Linked DNA regions of Homo sapiens. The protein of the gene in region 1 interacts with the protein of each later gene in a pairwise test. Each region holds a gene or a part of one and is shown on either strand. Other genes may lie near its edges.

What was found.
Region 2: the proteins of UBE2K (region 1) and TRIM39 interact in binary tests that used the Homo sapiens proteins (3 or more experiments, as listed by UniProt).
Region 3: the proteins of UBE2K (region 1) and CAMK2A interact in binary tests that used the Homo sapiens proteins (3 or more experiments, as listed by UniProt).
Region 4: the proteins of UBE2K (region 1) and SYNCRIP interact in binary tests that used the Homo sapiens proteins (3 or more experiments, as listed by UniProt).

Annotation. Positions count from the first base shown.
Region 1 is NC_000004.12:39,704,636-39,709,534, reverse strand, and holds part of UBE2K (ubiquitin-conjugating enzyme E2 K), read right to left. Parts: intron 1-4,899. UniProt on the Homo sapiens protein: Accepts ubiquitin from the E1 complex and catalyzes its covalent attachment to other proteins. In vitro, in the presence or in the absence of BRCA1-BARD1 E3 ubiquitin-protein ligase complex, catalyzes the synthesis of 'Lys-48'-linked polyubiquitin chains.
Region 2 is NC_000006.12:30,335,870-30,341,017, forward strand, and holds part of TRIM39 (E3 ubiquitin-protein ligase TRIM39), read left to right. Parts: coding exon 1-106; intron 107-4,038; coding exon 4,039-4,061; intron 4,062-4,402; coding exon of another isoform or gene 4,403-4,492; intron 4,493-4,635; coding exon 4,636-4,751; intron 4,752-5,148. Other genes in the region: TRIM39-RPP21 protein, read left to right, coding at 1-106, 4,039-4,061, 4,636-4,751.
Region 3 is NC_000005.10:150,251,183-150,256,330, reverse strand, and holds part of CAMK2A (calcium/calmodulin-dependent protein kinase type II subunit alpha), read left to right. Parts: intron 1-2,784; coding exon 2,785-2,887; intron 2,888-4,265; coding exon 4,266-4,349; intron 4,350-4,486; coding exon 4,487-4,581; intron 4,582-5,148. UniProt on the Homo sapiens protein: Calcium/calmodulin-dependent protein kinase that functions autonomously after Ca(2+)/calmodulin-binding and autophosphorylation, and is involved in various processes, such as synaptic plasticity, neurotransmitter release and long-term potentiation.
Region 4 is NC_000006.12:85,615,591-85,619,943, reverse strand, and holds part of SYNCRIP (heterogeneous nuclear ribonucleoprotein Q), read left to right. Parts: intron 1-526; coding exon 527-676; intron 677-1,004; coding exon 1,005-1,126; intron 1,127-4,353. UniProt on the Homo sapiens protein: Heterogenous nuclear ribonucleoprotein (hnRNP) implicated in mRNA processing mechanisms. Component of the CRD-mediated complex that promotes MYC mRNA stability.

The DNA.
Region 1 (4,899 bases):
AATATATTGTAATGAAAGTTACGTGAATGTGCTCTCTCAAAATACCTTATTGTACTATACTCACTTATTTTTGGACGATGGTTGACAATGGGTAACTGAAACTGCAGAAAATCAAACTGCAGATAAGGGTGGACTACTTGGCCACTAGCCCCATGGATTATTGGCACACAGGTGACAAAGAAACACTATTAGAAGTACCTTAACCCTCATCTTGAGCTTTTCTTGAGGCATATTTACATCCAATAATCACTAAACCATTGAACAATACCTTTATAATCCAAGAATAATAAGCACGACAGAATATGAAAACATAGCTAATTCTGACATCTAACAGCTATCCGTTTACTGAATGTTTAATTATGTCCCAAGGTTGTTCTAAGCACCGCAAGGACTCTCCTAATCTTCCCACATTTTTACAGATTAAAAAAATCGAGATACAGAGCCAGTACTTCAGGTTTTAAGAAGAAAAGCCAGGACTCAAAGCAAATCTAATTCTAAAGCCCACGCCCTTAATTACTAAGCTAACTTAACTAAATTATGCTTCAGGAGTTAAAAAATCTCTACCTCCTTGGCAAGTTCAAGTTCTCATACTAAGAGGAAAAAAAAAAAAAAAGACACAAATAATACTGCATTGTTATCCCCTTCTGTAAAGTTGTATTAGCAGTCAGCTTTTATACTATCATTTATGAAAAGGATATTCCCAAAAACCAACTACTTATTATGACTAAACTGGTATGCAAAAAGCCTGGGTTCACCATTAACCAGCTCTGTTTCTCTGAGAAACAATCAACCTCCTTGGGCCTCAATTTCCTGATTTTATAGATGAGAAGTTTGGCCTAGATCTGTTTCAGCTCTGAAATTCAATACATTTTGGCACATTTTCTAAGACACTATATTTTTCTTAAGAAAGATTTTGAAAAGCATCTTTTGAAAACTTTCAAACTTAAAATACATAATATATACTCACATCTATTCTTTTACTCAAACATACTCAAAACTAATCGGTTATTAGAAGTCAGGAAAGTAACTAGAAAGGCAGGCAGATTCCCATGGTACTGGGAAGGGTCTGTTTCTTGATTTGGATGCCAGTCACACTTTATTACGTACACATTTTACTTTAATATGAAAAAGGGTGGTTTTCCTCCCCAAAAGGTAACCATGAAGAAAGTTAAGATCATGATCTAACTCTAAAACTATGTTTGAGTATGTAAGAGCTGTGCAACCTTTCTGTTCTAAATATGCAAATGTGCTTCTTGAATAATTGTATCAATAATCTCTTTGTTCCATAGTTCCAATTCATGTGCCTAAAGAAAAGTTCATTTACTTAAGAATCTCGGCCAGGCGCGGTGGCTCACGCCTGCAATCCCAGCACTTCGGGAGGCCAAGGCTGGCAGATCACCTGAGTCCCGGAGTTCGAGACCAGCCTGACTGACCACCATGGAGAAACCCGGTCTCTACTAAAAATACAAAATTAGCTGAGCGTGGTGGTGCATGCCTGTAATCCCAGCTTCTCGGGAGACTGAGGCAGGAGAATCGCTTGAACCCGGGAGGCAGAGGTTGCAATGAGCTGAGATTGTGCCACTGCACTCCAGCCTGGGCAACAAGAGCAAAACTGTCTCAGAAAAAAAAAATTGCAATATTACCAGAATTCCTTTGGGACTGTCTCCTGAAATTTGAGGTCAGTCTTAACTTTCCTCTAGAACTCAGCTCAAGAAGGCTGGGTGAGGTGGCTCATGCCTATAATCCCAGCACTTTGGGAGGCTGAGGCAGGAGGACTGCTTGAAGCCAGGAGTTCAAGACCAACCTGGGCAACACAATGAGACCCCATCTCTACAAAAAATAAAAATTAGCCAGGTGTGGTGGCACACACCTGTAGTCCCAGCTACTCGGGAGGCTGAGGTGGAAGGCCTGCTAGAACCCAGGAGGTCAAGGCTGCAATGAGCTATGATTGTGCCCCTGGGCGACAGAGTGAGACCCCATCTCAAAAAAAAAAAAAAGGCACCTAGCTCAAGAACCTCCCTCATACAGTCATACAGGCCAGGCACGACGGCTCATGCCTGTAATCCCAGCACTTTGAGAAGCCAAGGCAGGCGGATCACCTGAGGTCTGAAGTTCGAGACCAGCCTGGCTAGAAACCCCATCTCTACTAAAAATAGGAAAATTAGCTGGGTATGGTGGCATGCGCCTGTAATCCCAGCTACTGGGTCAAGCAGGAGAACTGCCTGACCTGGGAAGCAGAAGCTGCAGTGAGCCAAGATCATGTCACCGCACTCCAGCCTGGGTGAGAGAGTGAGATTCCATCTCAAACAAAACAAAACAAAAAAACTCCAGGTGGGGTGGCTCACACATGTAAGCCCAGCACTTTGGGAGGCCAAGACAGCCAGATCACCTGAGGTCAGGAGTGTGAGACCAGCCTGGTCAACATGGTGAAATCCAGTCTCTACTAAAAATACAAAAAAAATTAGCCGGGTGTGGTGGCGCATGCCTGTAATTCCAGCCATTCTGGAGGCTGAGGCCTGAGAATCACTTGAAGCCAGGAGGCGGAGGCTGCAGTGAGCCGAGATAAAGCCACTGCACTCCAGGCTGGGTGACAGAGACTCTGACTCAAAACAAAACAAAAACAAAAAAGAACCTCCCTCATTCAAATACCCTCAGAATCCCATAGCATTTACACTTTGCCCCTCCCATTTTTATCTATCCTTTGTCCTGTATCTCCAACCAATTAAGCCTTTTGGGGCTGTGGTCAACATGTTCGGTAACTGTTAATAATGTATTCACTGGGAAATAAGAGTATATAGTCTTGGCTGGGCATTGTGGCTCACACTTGTAATCTTATCACTTTGGGAGACCAGCCTGGCCAACATCATAAAACCCTGTCTCTACTAACAATATAAAAAATTGGCTGGGCGGTGGGGCGCGCCTGTAATCCCAGCTACTTGGTAGGCTGAGGCAGGAGAACCGCTTGACCTGGGAGGTGGTGGCTGCAGTGAGCTTGGATCATGCTACTGGACTCCAGCCAGGGTGACACAGTGAGATTCCATCTGGGAAAAAAAAAAAAAAAAAGTCCAGGCATGCCAGGCATGGTGGCTCACCATTTAAGCCAAGCACTTTGGGAGGCCCAGGCAGGCAGATCATCTGAGGCCGCGAGTTTAAGACCAGCCTGGCCAATACAATGAAACCCTGTCTCTACTAAAACTACAAAAATTAGCTGGGTATTGTGGCCGGACAGGGTGGTTCACACCTGTAATCCCAGCACTTTGGGAGGCCAAGGCAGGCAGATCACGAGGTCAGGAGATCGAGACCATCCTGACTAACACGGTGAAACCCCGTCTCTACTAAAAAAAAAATACAAAAAATTAGCTGGGAGTGGTCGTGGACGCCTGTAGTCCCAGCTACTCAGGAGGCTGAGGCAGGAGAATGGCATGAACCTGAGAGGCGGAGCTTGCAGTGAGCTGAGATAGCGCCACTGCACTCCAGCCTAGGTGACAGAGCGAGACTCCGTCTCAAAAAAGAAAATTAGCTGGGCATGGTGGCGCATGCCTGTAATCCCGGGATCCCAGCCATTCCAGAGGCTGAGGTATTGGTTGAACCTGGGAGGCGGAGGTTGCAGTGAGCTGAGATCGCGCCACTGCACTCCAGCCTGGGTGACAAAGCGAGACTCCGTCTCAAAAAAAAAAATTAGCTGGGCGTGGTGGCGCATGCCTGTAATCCCGGGATCCCAGCCATTCCAGAGGCTGAGGTATTGGTTGAACCTGGGAGGCGGAGGTTGCAGTGAGCTGAGATGGAGCCACTGCACTCCAGGCTGGGTGATAGAGCCGAGACTCTGTCACAAAAACAAAACAAAACAACAACAAAAAGGAATCTCTCTCATGCAGATACCCTTTAGAATCCCATAGCATTTACTCTTTGCCCCCACCATTTTTATCTATCCTTTGTCTGCCCTGTATCTCTAACCAGTTAAGCCTTTTGGGGCTATAGTCAATATTTTCAATAACTGTCAATAATGTATTCACGGGAAATAAGAGTATATAGTCTTGGCTGGGCACGGTGGCTCACGCCTGTAATCCCAGCACTTTGGGAGGCCAAGGCAGTTGGATCACTTGAGGTCAGGGGTTCGAGACCAGCCTGGCCAACATGGTAAAACCCTGTCTCTACTAACAATACAAAATATTAGCTGGGCGTGGTGGGGTGCGCCTGTAATACCAGCTACTCAGGAGGCTGAGGCACGAGAGTCGCTTGAACCCGGGAGGCAGAGGCTGTGGTGAGTTGAGATCGTGCCACCATACTCCAGCCTGGACAACAGAGCAAGACTCTGTCTCCCAAAAAAAAAAAAAAAAAAACCCAGGTGCAGTGGCTCATGCCTGCAATCCCAGCACTTTGGGAGGCCGAGGCGGCAGATCACAAGGTCAGGAGCTCGAGACCAGCCTGGCCAATACGGTAAAAACCCGTCTCTACTAAAAATACAAAAACAAAAACAAAAAAAAACAAAAAAAAACATTAGCCATGCATGCTGGCACATGCCTGTAATCCCAGCTACTCAGGAGGCTGAGACAGGAGAATTGCTTGAACCCGGGAGGCGGAGGTTGCGGTGAGCCGAGATGGCGCATTGCACTCCAGCCTGGGCGACAGAGGGAGACTCCGTCTAAAAAAAAAAAAAAAAAAAAAGGTGTATAGTCTTTAAGAAGGGGTGACAGGCCAAGCATGGTGGCTCACGTCTGTAATCCCAGCACTTCAGGTGGCCAAGGCCGGAGGATCACTTCAGTCCAGGAGTTCGAGACCAGCCTGGGCAACATGGTGAAACCCCGTCTCTACAAAAAATTACATAAATTAGCTGGGCATGGTGGCAGACGCCTTTAGTCCCTGCTACTTGGAAGGCTGAGGTAGGAGGATCATCTAAGC
Region 2 (5,148 bases), on another chromosome or scaffold:
ACTCCGAGAAAATGCTGCTCACCTTGGGGACAAGCGCCGGGACCTGGCCCACTTGGCTGCCGAGGTGGAGGGCAAGTGCTTACAGTCAGGCTTCGAGATGCTTAAGGTTCGACCTTTGCCCCTGCATAGCCCCTCAGGCTGAGTGCAGCGTAGCTTTGCGTAGCCTGGGATTTGTCAGCCTGGGATACTCATTCTTCTGCTCTCCTTCTCTAAATCCAGTTCTTTCTGCCAGGTGTACTCAAAGGGTCTTTGCTACGGAAAAGTGATTTCTCCCATCCCCTTCTAACCATTTTTGTGTTCTTATCTCTGGTCAGCAATTATGTGCTTAATCTGTTCCAAAGAAAAGATTCATTCTTTTGAAAGGAGGGAAGTCTAGCCTGAGTTAGTGAAAAACTATGCATTAAAAATTTTGTAAATGCAGTTACCATTACTTTTAAGTCCTGAAATTTGATTTATGTACTGCTGAAAAAGGACAGAAACATAGTTTAAAGGATACAGGCATACCTCAGAGATATTGTGGGTTCAGTTCCATACCACTTCAATAAAGCGAGTATCTTGATAAAGCAAGTCACATTAATTGTTGGGTTTCCTAGTGGAATCATATTTTTGCTGGTGGAGGGTCTTGTGTTAGTATTGACTGATCGAGGTGGTGGTTGCTGAAGATTGGGGTGACTGTGGTAATTTCTTAAAATAAGACAACGACGAAGTTTACTTTCAACTCTTCCTTTTATGAAAGATATCTCTGAGCATGTGATGCTGTTTAATAGCATTTTACTCACCAGTAGAACTTCTTTGAAAATCTTTGAAAACCCACATTTGCAGTTACTTACAACATGGGAGTCTTGAACCCCTAAAAGTCATCCATAAGGGTTGGAATAGACTTCTTCTAAATGCCTGTTAATATTGATATTTTGGCTTCCTTTCACAAATCACAAATGTTCTTAATGGCATCTAGAATGGTGAATCCTTACCAGAAAGCCTTCAATTTACTTTGCCTAGATCTATCAGAAAAATCACTATTTATAGCAGCTTTATGAAATACATTTATTAAGACTTGAAAGTCCAAATTACTTCTTGATCCATGGGCTGCCGATTGGATGTTGTGTTAGCGGACGTGAAAACAACATGAATCTCATTTTACATCTCTATCAGAACTTTTGGGTGATCAAGTGCATTGTCAGTGAGCAGTAATATTTTGAAAGGAATCTTTTTTTCTGAGCAGTAGGTCTCAACTTAAAATTTTCAGTAAAGGGTTGGGCACGGTGGCTTACACCTGTAATCCTATCACTTTGGGAGGCCAAGGCAGGTGGATCACCTGAGGTCAGGAGTTTGAGACCAGCCTGGCCAACATGGTGAAGCCCAATCTCTACTAAAAATACAAAAAAATTAGCTGGGCATGGTGGTGGGCGCCTGTAATCCCAGCTACTCGGGAGGCTGAGGGAGGAGAATCGCTTGAACCCGAGAGGCAGAGGTTGCAGTGAGCCAAGATCATGCAGTTGCACTCCTGCCTGGGTGACAAGAGTGAAACTCCATCCCCCCAAAAAAAACTTCAGTAAAGGCTAGGCACGTTGGCTCACATCTGTAATCCCAGCACTCTGAGAGATCAAGCCAGGAGGACTGCTTAAGGCCAGGAATTCAAGACCAGTCTGGGCAATATAGCAGGACCCCATCTCTACAAAAGGTAATTTTTTTTAATTAAAAACATTCAGTATACCATGCTGTATACAGGTGTACTGTCATGTAGGCTTTGTTATTCCATTTCTAGAGCACAAGGAAAGTAGATTTAGCATAATTCTTAAGAGCCCTAGGATTTTTGAAATGGTAAGTGAGCACTGGTTTCAACTTAAAGTCACCAGCTGCCCTTGCTTCTAATAAGAAAGTCATCCTGTCCTTTGAAGCTTTAAAGCCAGGCATTGACTTCTCTCGAACTGTGAAAGCCCTGGATAGCACCTTCTTCAATAGAAGGCTGTTTGTTGACATTGAAAATGTGTTGTTTAGTGTAGCCACCTTCATCAGTAATCTTGGCAAGATCTTCTGGATAACTTGCTGCAACTTCTGCATCAGCACTTGCTGCTTCTCCTTGCACATTTTTGTTACAGAGATGGCTTCTTTTCTTAAAACAACCTACCTAACTTTAAACTTTTCTTCTGCAGCTTCCTTACCTCTCTCAGCTTTCATAGAACTGAAGGAGTTAACAGCCTTGCTCTGGATTGGGCTTTGGCTTAAGGGAATCATGTGATCTTATATCCAGATCACTAAAATTTTCTCCATCTCAGCAATAAAGCTGTTTCACTTTCTTATCATTCATGTGTTCACTGGAGTAGCACTTTTAATTTTCTTCAATAACTTTTCCTTAGCATTCACAGCCTGGCTTGGTGTTTGGCACAAGAGGCCTAGCTTTCAGCCCATCTTGGCTTTCAATGTGCCTTTCTCACTAAGCTTAAACATTTTTAGGTTTTGATTTAAAGTGAGAGACATGTGATTCTTCTTTCACATGAACACTTAGAGGCCATTGCAGGATTATTAATTGATATAATTTTAATATCGTTGTGTCTCGGAATAGGGAGGCCAGAGGAGATGGAGAAAGATGAGGGAATAGCTGGTAGTGGATCAGTTAGAACACATAAAATATATTTATCGATTAAGTTGTTCGTCTTATATGGATGCAGTTCACAGTGCCCCCATAACGATTACAATAGTAACATCAAAGATCACTGATCACAGATCATACTAGATATAATAATGAAAAAGTGTGAAATATTGTGAGAATTACCAAAATGTGACACAGAGACATGAAGTGAACACATGCTGTTGGAAAACATGGTGCCAGTAGACTTGCTCAACACAGGTTGCCACAAACCATCTATCTGAAAAACATACAATGTCAACAAAACACAATAAAGCGAGGTGCAATAAAATGAGGTATGCCTGAAATTGTTTAAATAATATATTGCTTTTGATATGTATATATTAATAATACCTCTAAAGTGTTTGAAATATTTTGTTCTCTTACGTAAATGAATGGTGTTAGCAAAACTAGGGAACATATTTTTTATCTTAGAGATTAGATTACCAGCATTTGAAGCAGTGAGGCTTCATTGTACATTTATTTTTATGTTACGTATTGCTTGGTATTTGTTCCTATGGCCTTTCATGTATGTGTGTTCTGCCTTCCATATTAAACTGGGAAATCCTTGTGGGACAGAGATTTGTCTTCTTTGTCTTCTGGACCCCAAGTATTCACAAATCAGTATTAGCACACAGTTATTAATGTGTTTATTCTTCCTTTTTTTTTTTTCTGAGAGAGTCTTGCTCTGTCGCCCAGGCTGGAGTGCAGTGCATGATCTCGGCTCACTGCAACCTTTGCCTCCTGTGTTCAAGCGATTCTCCTGCCTCAGCCTCCTGAGTAGCTGGGGTTACAGGCGCACACCACCACACCTGGCTAATTTTTGTATTTTTAGTAAAGACAGGGTTTCACCATGTTGGCTAGGCTGGTCTTGAACTCCTGACCTCAAGTGATCCACCCGTCTTGGCCTCCCAAAGCGCTCAGATTACAGGCGTGAGCTACTGTGCCCAGCCAGTTATTGATGTTTATTAACTAATGCAAGACAGGGGATACCAAACCGTAACAGGAATGTGTGATTTGTTCCTATGCCACCAGTCTGGAACTCTCTGTACTTATCCTCAAGGAGAGTGAGATATGTGGTTGGTACTTGGGGGACAGAGTAAAGAATTGATACAATCCCTGTCCCTTATAGGGAGCTCCCAGCATCCTTGAGGAGCAAAGACAAGCATAAAAGAAATCATTGGGAAGTGATATAAATGACCAAGCTTCATGATGACCAGAAGTTGAAAGTAGGGATTAGGTTGGGAGAAGTGCATTCAGGTCCCGCTGGAGCTCTTCTTGCACTGTGTGACCCTCAGTTTATCCTATCCCTATTTTATAGCTGTGGAACTTTGGGGAGGAGGGGGAACCTTTTGCCTTCAGGACCACTGAATACCAGGACCAATATTGCTTTCTTTTCTCCTTCCTTCTAGGATGTCAAAAGTACCCTGGAAAAGTAAGTGATTGTTGTATCTCTCTGAGTGAGTTAGGTCTTGGCTTAGAGAGGAGGGGTACAGTCAGGAGTTTGGGTTGGGGGTGAGGTTGGGAAAGTCATGTAGTGTGTCTGGGCAGGGTATGGGAGAATGTTCATTGTGCCCATGAAGCCAGTTAGAGAACAAATTATTGGGAATAATAATCCCTTTTCCCCTTTGAACATCAGGACTTCTTGAGAAGGAGAATGATAAGGTAGAATCAGATTCTACTTGTGCCAGTGGGTGGAATTGTGTCCAAACAAGATGGCAGGAGGAAGGGGTTGGGAGAGCAGGGAGGGCAATCATCCATTTGCATGAAATACAGGAATATTCCTAGAAAGTTCGGAGGCTCACTCTCAACGATCTGTCCACGGGATCATAAGGCTCTCCTTGGATTAGTAAAAGAAATCAACAGGTGAGCTTTTCAGGGAGGAGGAAGAAAGTGGGAAGATGGAGAATTTTAATTTCTCCCTAAAAATGTTAACATCTGAATAGTCACTTGGCTGGAGCTTCTCCCTAACCCTGCCCTTTCTTCCCCTATCTCCCTATCCCTCCTAGATGTGAAAAGGTGAAGACCATGGAGGTGACTTCAGTATCCATAGAGCTGGAAAAGAACTTCAGCAATTTTCCCCGACAGTACTTTGCCCTAAGGAAAATCCTTAAACAGCTAATTGGTGAGTTGTTCCCAAAAGGAAACTAGAAGAAACCACTAGAGAGAAGAAAGTTTTTAGGTCCTACCTTATATGGGTTTCAGTTATCCTATGTCTCACTTTTCTTACTCCCACACACACCTACCCCTTTATCTGGCTTTTAGTCTCACCCTGAGTCACAGAACTTGGAGTGAGAGGAAGCCTTAAGCGTTATCTACTCTTAGGTCCATTCTTTTCTAAATAGAGACCCAGAAAGGTTAAATAATTTGCCAAAGTCATCGGGTAGAGTGGTTATATAATTTACCATGTAAACTTGCATAACCTTCAAAGGCCGGGTGCGGTGGCTCACATCTGTAATCCTAGCACTTTGGGAGGCCAAGGCTGGTGGATCACTTGAGGTCAGGAGTTCGACATCAGCCTG
Region 3 (5,148 bases), on another chromosome or scaffold:
GGGTGAGCTGCAGTTATACTGTCATGACTGGCTACGGTGGGTGGGGAAGAAGGCAGGCTGGGTCCAAATCTCAACCAGGCCACTTTCCAGCCATGCAGCCTTTAGTAGCATGACCTTCCTGAGCCTCAGATTCTTCACAATGGGGGTTGCCATAGCAACCTCTGCAAAGGGTTGGTGAGGATATGAAATGAGATAGCACGGGGCCTGGTATACAGATGCATTCTTAGTCTTGTTCCTGCATCTCTGGCAGGCCAGGGGAGAAGAAAAACCAGACTCTAGGCCCGTGCAGTTCTCCTTTCTTTTACCTGAAGGAGATTGCAGAGTCTAGGACTGGCACCAGCTGCACAGCCTTGCTCCTTCAGCAGGGACTTCATGGATCTCCGCTGCTGATCCTCATGGTATCAGTGGCTGGTAGTTCATATTGTCTCCATTTTGCAGAGCAGGAAACTAAGGCCTAAGAGTTCAAGCAATTTGCCCAAGAACATGCAGTTCAATTGTCCTTAGCTAGGGCGGGGGAATTCTGGCCTTCTAACCCCTGATCCTGTGACCTTGGGAGTCTGGTGCCAAAAGGTCACTCTATCCAGCTCCTGCTTCCTCAGCAGCCCCTTCTAGGGTGACCCTGCCAGATGTCCATCAAACCTCTGCTTTTTGTTCTTCAGTGACAGCAAACTCACTTCCCATGGGGTAGCCCCTTGCACCACTGGGGAACACTCTTCCCTGCTGGAGGGGCTTTGCCCTGAACCTCAGTTCTGCCATTTGGAACCACACAGAGACCAAACCTCCAGCTTGGAAGAGCCCTAGACGGACTCCAGCAGCTTTGTTGTAGCTGCTAAGTCCCCTGCAGGGTGTACCCACCCCTGCCACGGTCCTCCCGGAGTGTGATTTTCAGGCCAGCCTCATCCTGGGCACCTTCCCTGGGCATGCTTCCACTGGTCTGGGTCCCTCTTTGGGGCACAATGCTCTGAAGAGAGACCCTGCCCCTCTCTGACTGTCCTGGGCAGACACGGCTTCTCTCCTGAGCCCTAGGCAAGCTCCCTGTGGCTCAGTCTAGATGAGACGAGTGTGCACTCCAAGAGGGTCTCCAGCCAGACTGCAGGGCACCTCTCCCAGAGGGCCTGTTCCCATTATAGCTGCAGCCCCTGCACTGGAGGAGGAAGGAGGAGAGGCAGCCCAAATTTAGGCCACTCTGGATATAATAATTAGTGACACATTCATCAAATCAGGGCAGGACGGTTACCGAGACCCAGGACATGTTAGGAACATTGTCCCCAGAGGACAAAGGAGGCCTTTGAGCCAGGCGGAGGGAGCTATATTTGTTTGGGTCCAGCCTAGCTTTAGACAGTGAAAGGTCAGAGGTGGGACCCTTCAGAAGTCCCACTGGGAAGGGGATCAGAGGAGGACTCAAAACCAACAGTCTTCAGAGACTCTGAGCCCCTCCCCAAGCCAAAAATAGAAGTACTAACATTTACCAAGCACTTACTGTAGGCCACAGCGAAGTGCTTACACAGATTATCTCAGTTAATCCATGCACCACCCCATAAGGTAAGCATTTTTCTCAGAGGAAACTAAAGCTCAGAGAAGTGAAATAATTTGCCCATATGTCATGGCATAGAGGTGGGCAGCATCGGGATCAGAAACTGGGACTATCTAAGCGAGCCCACAGTCTTAGCGCCCCTCCATCCTGAGTCTCAGGGTGAAGGGACCAGCAGGAAGTGGAGGAATTCTGGAGGCTGAGCCAGTGCAAAGCAGCAGCCTCGATGCCCAGAGGCCAGGTGTGGGACCTTCCCAAGTCAGCTGCTGGCCCCATGTATAAGCCTCATCATCTTTCAGCCTAGAGCAGTTAAGATAGAGTCAGACTTTGCCTCGATTCTGGCTCTATCCCTTACCAGCTGCGTGATCTTGGCCAAGTCACTTAACCTCTCTGAGCTTCAGTTTTCTCATCTTTATATACGTGACAAATACTTATTAAGTGCCTGCTGTGTGGCCCCCCAACCTAGGTGCTGGTGATACAGTGGTGAACAGGACAGATAAGGAACTCACATTCCCCAGGGCTGACAGATGATAAACAAGCACATAGACAGATGGGAGAAAACACTGCAAATTGTGATGAGATCTATGAAGGTAACAACAGGAGCAAAGACACAGGATGCCTGAGGGCTTCCCCTCTAGATAGAGTAAACTTGGATGGCCTCCTCCATGGGGTGACATGAGACTGAGGGCTGGACAAAGTAAAGGGGCCACTTTGAAGCTTGGGGGAGAAAAAATTAGAGGAGGAAAACAGGAAGTGCAAAGGCCCTGAGGTGGAAACAAGATGGACTGTTTCAAGGGGCATAGGAAGGCCACTGTGGAAGATGTAGGTAATAATACCTACCCGAAAGGGTCGTTGATACAAGAGATGATGCACGCAGAACACTTAACCCAGCAGCTGACATATAGTAGGGGCACAATCAATGCTGCTGCTGCTGCTGCTGCTTTATTGTGGTGGTGAATGTACCACCCCGCTCTCACCTCAGCCCAGCCCCAGATCTTGAAGTGGGGAGGGAGGAGTGGCTGATGGAGAAAGGGCCTTTCTGTTGTAGCGGATGGAGGTCTTGCCATAGGATAGTCCCCTCTCTGGGGACTGAGACTCAGGAGCCTGAGGCGGGGCTGGAGATGAAAGCAGGGGCCCCGGAGGGCCGGGCTGTTCTTCCTGTGAGCCCAGGCCCCTAGAGGTGAGGCTCTGAATCTGCTGACTGTCTCTTGGCGCTTTCCTCCCCTTCCTCCCTCTTCTCTGGTCCTGACAAGCCTGAGAATCTGTTGCTGGCCTCCAAGCTCAAGGGTGCCGCAGTGAAGCTGGCAGACTTTGGCCTGGCCATAGAGGTGGAGGGGGAGCAGCAGGCATGGTTTGGTAAGTGGGGTGGGCTGGCAGAAGTGTTGGGGGTCAGCACCCATTTGTGTTGACACATAAGCCTCTGGGAACCCCCTGCCTGAGTGGGTATGGCTGGAGATGCTGTTGGGCCAGCCGGGGCTGGTAGAGCAGAGGCCCTGTCCCACCCAGCCTCTGAGCCAGTGGGCAGCACCTATCTGTGTCCCCAGGGTTCAGGCATGGGACCCTACGGCCTTCCACAGGGCTCCCTGGGGCCCCCTCTCTCCTTTCCTGTCACTCCCCTCCGCCATCTCTCCTCCCCAAAGGGCTCCCTGTGGTTGAAGGCCTTAGGGAAGTTTCCACAGAGCTGCCCTAATAGTCTAGGTGCTTGAGATTATTATCCTGATTTTATAGATGAGGAAAAAACTGGCAGAAAACTTGCAGAAGGTCAAGAAAGTTTAAAAGGGATAGACCAGGACTTAACTCAGATGATCCAGCCTGCTTTGTGATTTTGGTATAACTGGGTCTCTTTAAGCTACCTGGGAGTACTTTTTAGTGGGCAATATTGAGCCATGGTTAAGAACCAGAGTTCTGGGTTCAAATCCCGACTCTGCTACTTATGAGGTATGTGACTTTGGCTAAGTCACTTCACCTCTCTGTGCCTTCGTTCCTCATCTGTAAAATGGGAATAATAATTGTGTGTCCCTCAGGAGTGGTGTCAGAATTAAATGTGACCAGGCATATGAAGTGCTCAGCCCAATGCTTAGCATACACACTCGGTAACTTGTAAGTGTTCTTAAAAGTGCTTGTTAGAATACCTCAGGTGTCCATTATTTGAACTGACCGGCTCAACAACCCTGGGAGGCACTTAAGATAGGAATCCCTAATCCTTCATTTGACAGATGAGGAAACAAGGACTAGAAGATAAAGAGACGTACCCAAGGGGCAAAGTCAGTTAGGACAGGCCTCCCGACATCCCATGACCAACTCCAACAAGGGGGTGCAGAGTGGGCTTAGCTCTCAGCCTGGGGCTGACATGGCAGGTGCATTTCATCTTGAAGCCACCAGCAATGGATCACTAGTGGCTCCTGGAAGAGTGGTGCTGAGAAGCTTATGATCCTGAGTCAGGACCCAGTAGGAAGGAGTTCTGTGGCTGATTACCACTGGCTCTGAAGTGGGAAGTGGTGACAGGTGTGCTAGGTAGTTGTCGATCTGATCTAGAGGCTTTGCTGGCTCATCAGGCTTATGTCTTGGGCCGACTGGGGTTGCACAATACAAGCCCAAGTGCACCTGAGGGGCAGGGGCTGTTTTCCTCAGCTCCAGAGCAATCCTCATCCCCTCTTCCAGCAGGATCTTGCTCCAGGTTACTTACGAGACAACCTCTGTGTATGTGTCTGCCTGTCTGTGTGTCTGGGAGCAGGGTTTGCAGGGACTCCTGGATATCTCTCCCCAGAAGTGCTGCGGAAGGACCCGTACGGGAAGCCTGTGGACCTGTGGGCTTGTGGTGAGTTCATCCTAAGGCCCTTTTGTGCCCCTGGCTGCACCCCGGCCTCTGGGGCCCCCTCTCTCCTTTCCCATCACTCCCCTCCCCCCATGTCTCCTCCCCACAGGGGGTTGAAGGTTCTCTGGTCCTCTTTCCAGGGGTCATCCTGTACATCCTGCTGGTTGGGTACCCCCCGTTCTGGGATGAGGACCAGCACCGCCTGTACCAGCAGATCAAAGCCGGCGCCTATGATGTGAGTGTCGCTCCTCTCTTCAGCTCCCATCATCCTCTGGTGCCCTTCCAGTGAAAGCCAGCGCCAAGCCACTCTCTAGTTCTGGCACAGGGGTGAACCCCAGGGGAGCATGAAGACTGACCAGGGCCAGGTGGTTACCATGCTGTGCCTAATGATTGGAGATTTATCTTGCCCCAGAAGGCAAGAAGCAGCACCAAAATGGAGTGAGGAGTAGGGGAGAGGCGCCTCCCAAGCCAGGGTTTCTCTGTTTCTCTCTCATATATACAAATAATAATAGCTAACAATTCTATAGCACTCTCTGAATGTTTTACACATATTATTACATTTAATCCTCACACCAATCTATGATATAGGTGCTGTTATTATTCCCATTTTACATATAGAGAAGCTGACATACAGAGAGGTCAAGTAACTGCCTAGATCACACAGCTAAGAAATGGTAGAGGTGGGATTTGAACCAGGCAGTCTGGCTCTACCATCCATGCTTCTAACTACCAAGCTATATTGCTTTTATGCAGATAGCTATTAAGCTCTGTGCCGTATGTTTTATATTGTATTTAATTCTCA
Region 4 (4,353 bases), on another chromosome or scaffold:
AAGCTGCTATTAACATCTCTCTCTAAGTTTTTGTGTGCATGTAAGTTTTCAACTCTGGGTAAATAAGGAGCAGGATTGCTGGGTCATATGGAAGTGTGTGTTTAGTTTTGTAAGAAATCGCCAAACTGTCTTTCAAAGGGGCTATACCCTTTTGCATTCCCACCAGCAATGAATGAGAGTTTCTATTGCTCTGCATTCTTACCTGCATTTATAGTGTGTTGGATTTTGGCCATTCTAATAGTTTTGACTTGCGGTTTCCGAATGACAGATTATATTGAGCATCTTCATGAGATTCTTTGCCATCTGTATATCTTTTTTGGCAAAGCATCTATTTCAGGTCTTTCAACATGATCCAGCAGTTCTGCTGCTTGATATTTACCCAAGGAGTTGAAAACTTTTTTTTTTTTTATATTCTGACATTCTTCTAATGGATTGTGATTTGAGTTAACTTTGTAGGGTGGGGTGGTGGTATCTTAGAAATGGAACTCTTTGGAAATAATACAGGGGGGTATTTTCTTCCCCCTAGGTAAAAGTGCTGTTTGTACGCAACCTTGCCAATACTGTAACAGAAGAGATTTTAGAAAAGGCATTTAGTCAGTTTGGGAAACTGGAACGAGTGAAGAAGTTAAAAGATTATGCGTTCATTCATTTTGATGAGCGAGATGGTGCTGTCAAGGTAAATATGGTGGAATTACAGGCATCTAAATCAGACTAACAAATTTAGTCATTTTAGAATCTCAAAATAGTTTTACAAATTGGAGGAGACTTTGGAAGTCCATGGAATCCATTCAAACTAAAACCTTTTGGTTTTAGTGATGTTGGCAGTTTTCTAAGTAAAAATGAAAAATAATTGAATATCTGCATCTTTAAATAAAATTATTTGACTGCCTGCATGGGGCTTTCTCTTGTCCTTCCCACATTAATGATAAATGATATTCCAACTTTAAATGAATCATAATTGTATGAAAGTCCTATTTTTATATTGACTTATCTAATTTTTTAAGGCTATGGAAGAAATGAATGGCAAAGACTTGGAGGGAGAAAATATTGAAATTGTTTTTGCCAAGCCACCAGATCAGAAAAGGAAAGAAAGAAAAGCTCAGAGGCAAGCAGCAAAAAATCAAATGTGAGTGAAATTTGTATACTTAAAAATTGTATAAATTTTAATATTTATACACTAATTGGAAAATAACAGGTGTTGATCAGACTTGTTAAATGCATAACATCTCTTTAAAGAAGACTTGAACGTTTGAGAGTCATAGGGAAACACCAGTGATCTAAGTGTTTATTGAACTCTTACTATGAACCATATTTGTGAAAATAATCAGAATTGTAAATAACTGGAATTTTGGTAAATTGGCAAGATGAAAAATCTGTCTAGCTTTTTTTTTGTTTTGTATTGGGTGACAGAGTCTCACTTTGTCACTCAGGCTGGAGTGCAGTGGCACTCTTTCGGCTCACTGGAACCTCCACCTCCCGGGTTCAAGAGATTCTCCTGCCTCAGTCTTCTGAGTAGCTGGGTTACAGGCGCCACCATGCCTGGTAATTTTTGTGTTTTTTTTTTTAGTAGGGGTGGGGTTTCGTCATGTTGGCCAGGTTGGTCTCAAACTCCTGACCTCAGGTGATCCGCCCACCTCTGCCTCCCAAAGTGCTGGGATTACAGCTGTGAGCCACCATGCCTGGCCTATCTCACATATTTTCTTTGTATTTTACAGAATGTTCTTCTGAAAATGTCTTAAATATTAGCTGTCCAAATATCTTAATACATTTTGTTAAAGGGTGGAGAGTTTTTTCTCTGAGAGATAGGAAATACTAAATCTCTATTCATGATAGACTGTTTCTTCACCAGTAGTGCTCATTGCCACCCCAAAAATTTCATGTTCGATGGATGGATTTTGAAAATGAAATGAGTATTAAAATTATAACACAGTAGTGCAATAAGAAAACAAGTAGGTGTGTAATGAGTTATACTAATTAGGGAGACCTTTTTAGAGAATCTGTAAATAGGTATCTGCTTAAGACTGAAGGAAACTTAGTTGGGTAAGAATTGAAGTTAGCTCCTAAAAAGTTAGTTACTGATTTCCTAGAAGAGGGGTAATTGTTCTTGAATGTGAGAGCAATAATCACTGTCAATACTATTCAAGGTTAATTTTCTGTTGATTGCCCTGTTTGGAATTTAAAGGAAGAGGATGCTTCTACATATTTCTGTTACTTCATAATCAGGGAATTGATCAAGTTCTAGTTTCTGCAGTTAATTGTCCAGTTGGACAAGTTGGCAAGCTCTGAACCTCAATTTCTTCAGTTCTAAAATGGGATCAGACAAAATTATGTAATAGCTCTGGATTATGTGATTATCCAAGTGACCCATGCTTGTTCTGGGACCAAAGAAAATATACTTTGTAGGTTTGATGATAGTGTAAATGAAGGAAGACTACAAAAAGAGTTAGTTTTAATGCTCTATATTTCAAACACCTGGATATACTAAACAGTGTAAAATAACTTCTTTTTATTTCTTTCAGAAGACGATATATGGTTAATTTATTAAAGTAGAATGTAAGTATAGGAGATTATATTAGATAATGTGATTAGAGCAGTTACATTTGGTACTTGATAGAGGGAGATACTAAATAGAAGGTGGAGGATGTCAGTATATCTGTTAATATTTGAAAAGGAGTACAAACTAAAAGGGATGATTGCATGTTACTTTCGTACTTTAACTTGCTACAGTCTTTTTTTTTTTTTTTTTAAGTTTTAACTAAGCACGTATTCCTACATAATTCTCACTGTATTCCTGTGAGTTAGGTACTCTATCCCTTAGTTTGAAATGAGGAAACTGAGGCTCAGAAGTCAACTTCCTTGGGGTCATTCACATAGTAAGTAGTGGAGTTGGATTTGAACTAAGGTAGTCTAGTCTCCCATAATTTTCCCTCTTAACCACTATACCAGGATTTCTCATCTCTGTCCTCCTGACATTTTGGGCTGGATAATTCTTGGTCTTGGGGGCTGCCCTGTGCGTTGTAGGACTTTTAGCAGCATCCTTGGCCTCTTCCTGCTAGATGCCAGTAGCACCCCCTTTCTCAGTTATGACCGTCTAAAATGTCCCCCTGGAAAGAGGTGGTGGCAAAATTATCCCTGGTGAGAACTATTTAGAAATAGAAAAGGATGATCTTTCCATCATTTCCTCAAAACAATAAACCAGCAGAGCACATAAAAGGTCTAAGGACCTAGTGAACCGGAATAACATTTTTACGTTAGTCAGTTGGAACAGGGGCCTTTAATAATTCAGGATAAAATAAGGCCGGGCGTGGTGGCTCATGCCTGTAATCCCACCACTTTGGGAGGCTGAGGTGGGCAGATCACTCTAGGCCGAGGTGGGTGGATCATTCGAGGTTAGGAGTTCGAGACCAGCCTGGCCAACATGGTGAAACCCCATCTCTACTAAAAATAAAAATTGGCTAGGTATGGTGGCACATGCCTATAGTCCCAGCTACTCGAGAGGCTGTGGCAGGAGAATCACTTGAACCCAGGAGGTGGAGGTTGCAGTGAGGTGAGATTGCGCCACTGCATTGCAGCCTGGGTGACAGAGCAAGACTGTGTCTCAAATAAATAAATAAATAAAATAACATAACAGGTACGGAATAAAAAACACGAGTAAATTATTCCTTCAAGAGGGATTAATTTCCATATTTCATGGGATTATTGGGCTCAAAATAATCACTAAGTTTTAAGGAATTGTATAAAATTGTACTGTAGGGAACATGAGTTGGAATATTGTAACTTCGTTTAGTCCTTTTACATAGTATGTAAGCATATGCTGATTTGTGTGGTTGCTTTCTAATCACTTTGACAACTAAAGTTATACCTGTTTAGTGGTTAAAGTTCAGCACTATAGTTACGGTGTAGTTTATTTTTGGGAAAGTAGCAGATCTTTTAAATTTTACTTGGATAGCATTATTGTAGAAACAGGAAAACTTTAAGGTCTTTATGCTAATTTACTGTAGTAAACTTTGAACTTCACACATTTTGGTTGTGTGCTTGTCCTACTTGCCATTTTGCTTTTGTAATAAATGTTCTTCAAGTATATTGGAATAGAATCTTAGCAGAAATGCAATTCAAAGTGACAAATTTTTTTTTGAGTCAGAGTCTCGCTCTGTCACCCAGGCTGGAGTGCAGTGATGTGACCTTGGCTTACTGCAGCCTCCGCCACCTGGGTTCAAGCGATTCACCTGCTTCACTCAGCCTCCCGCATAGCTGGGATTACAGGCATGACCGCTCCCAGCCCTAAAGTGGCAAATTTGACAGCTAAATCAATTGTAAAAATTCTGTAACAGGTTTATTGGGAGATTTTGAAGA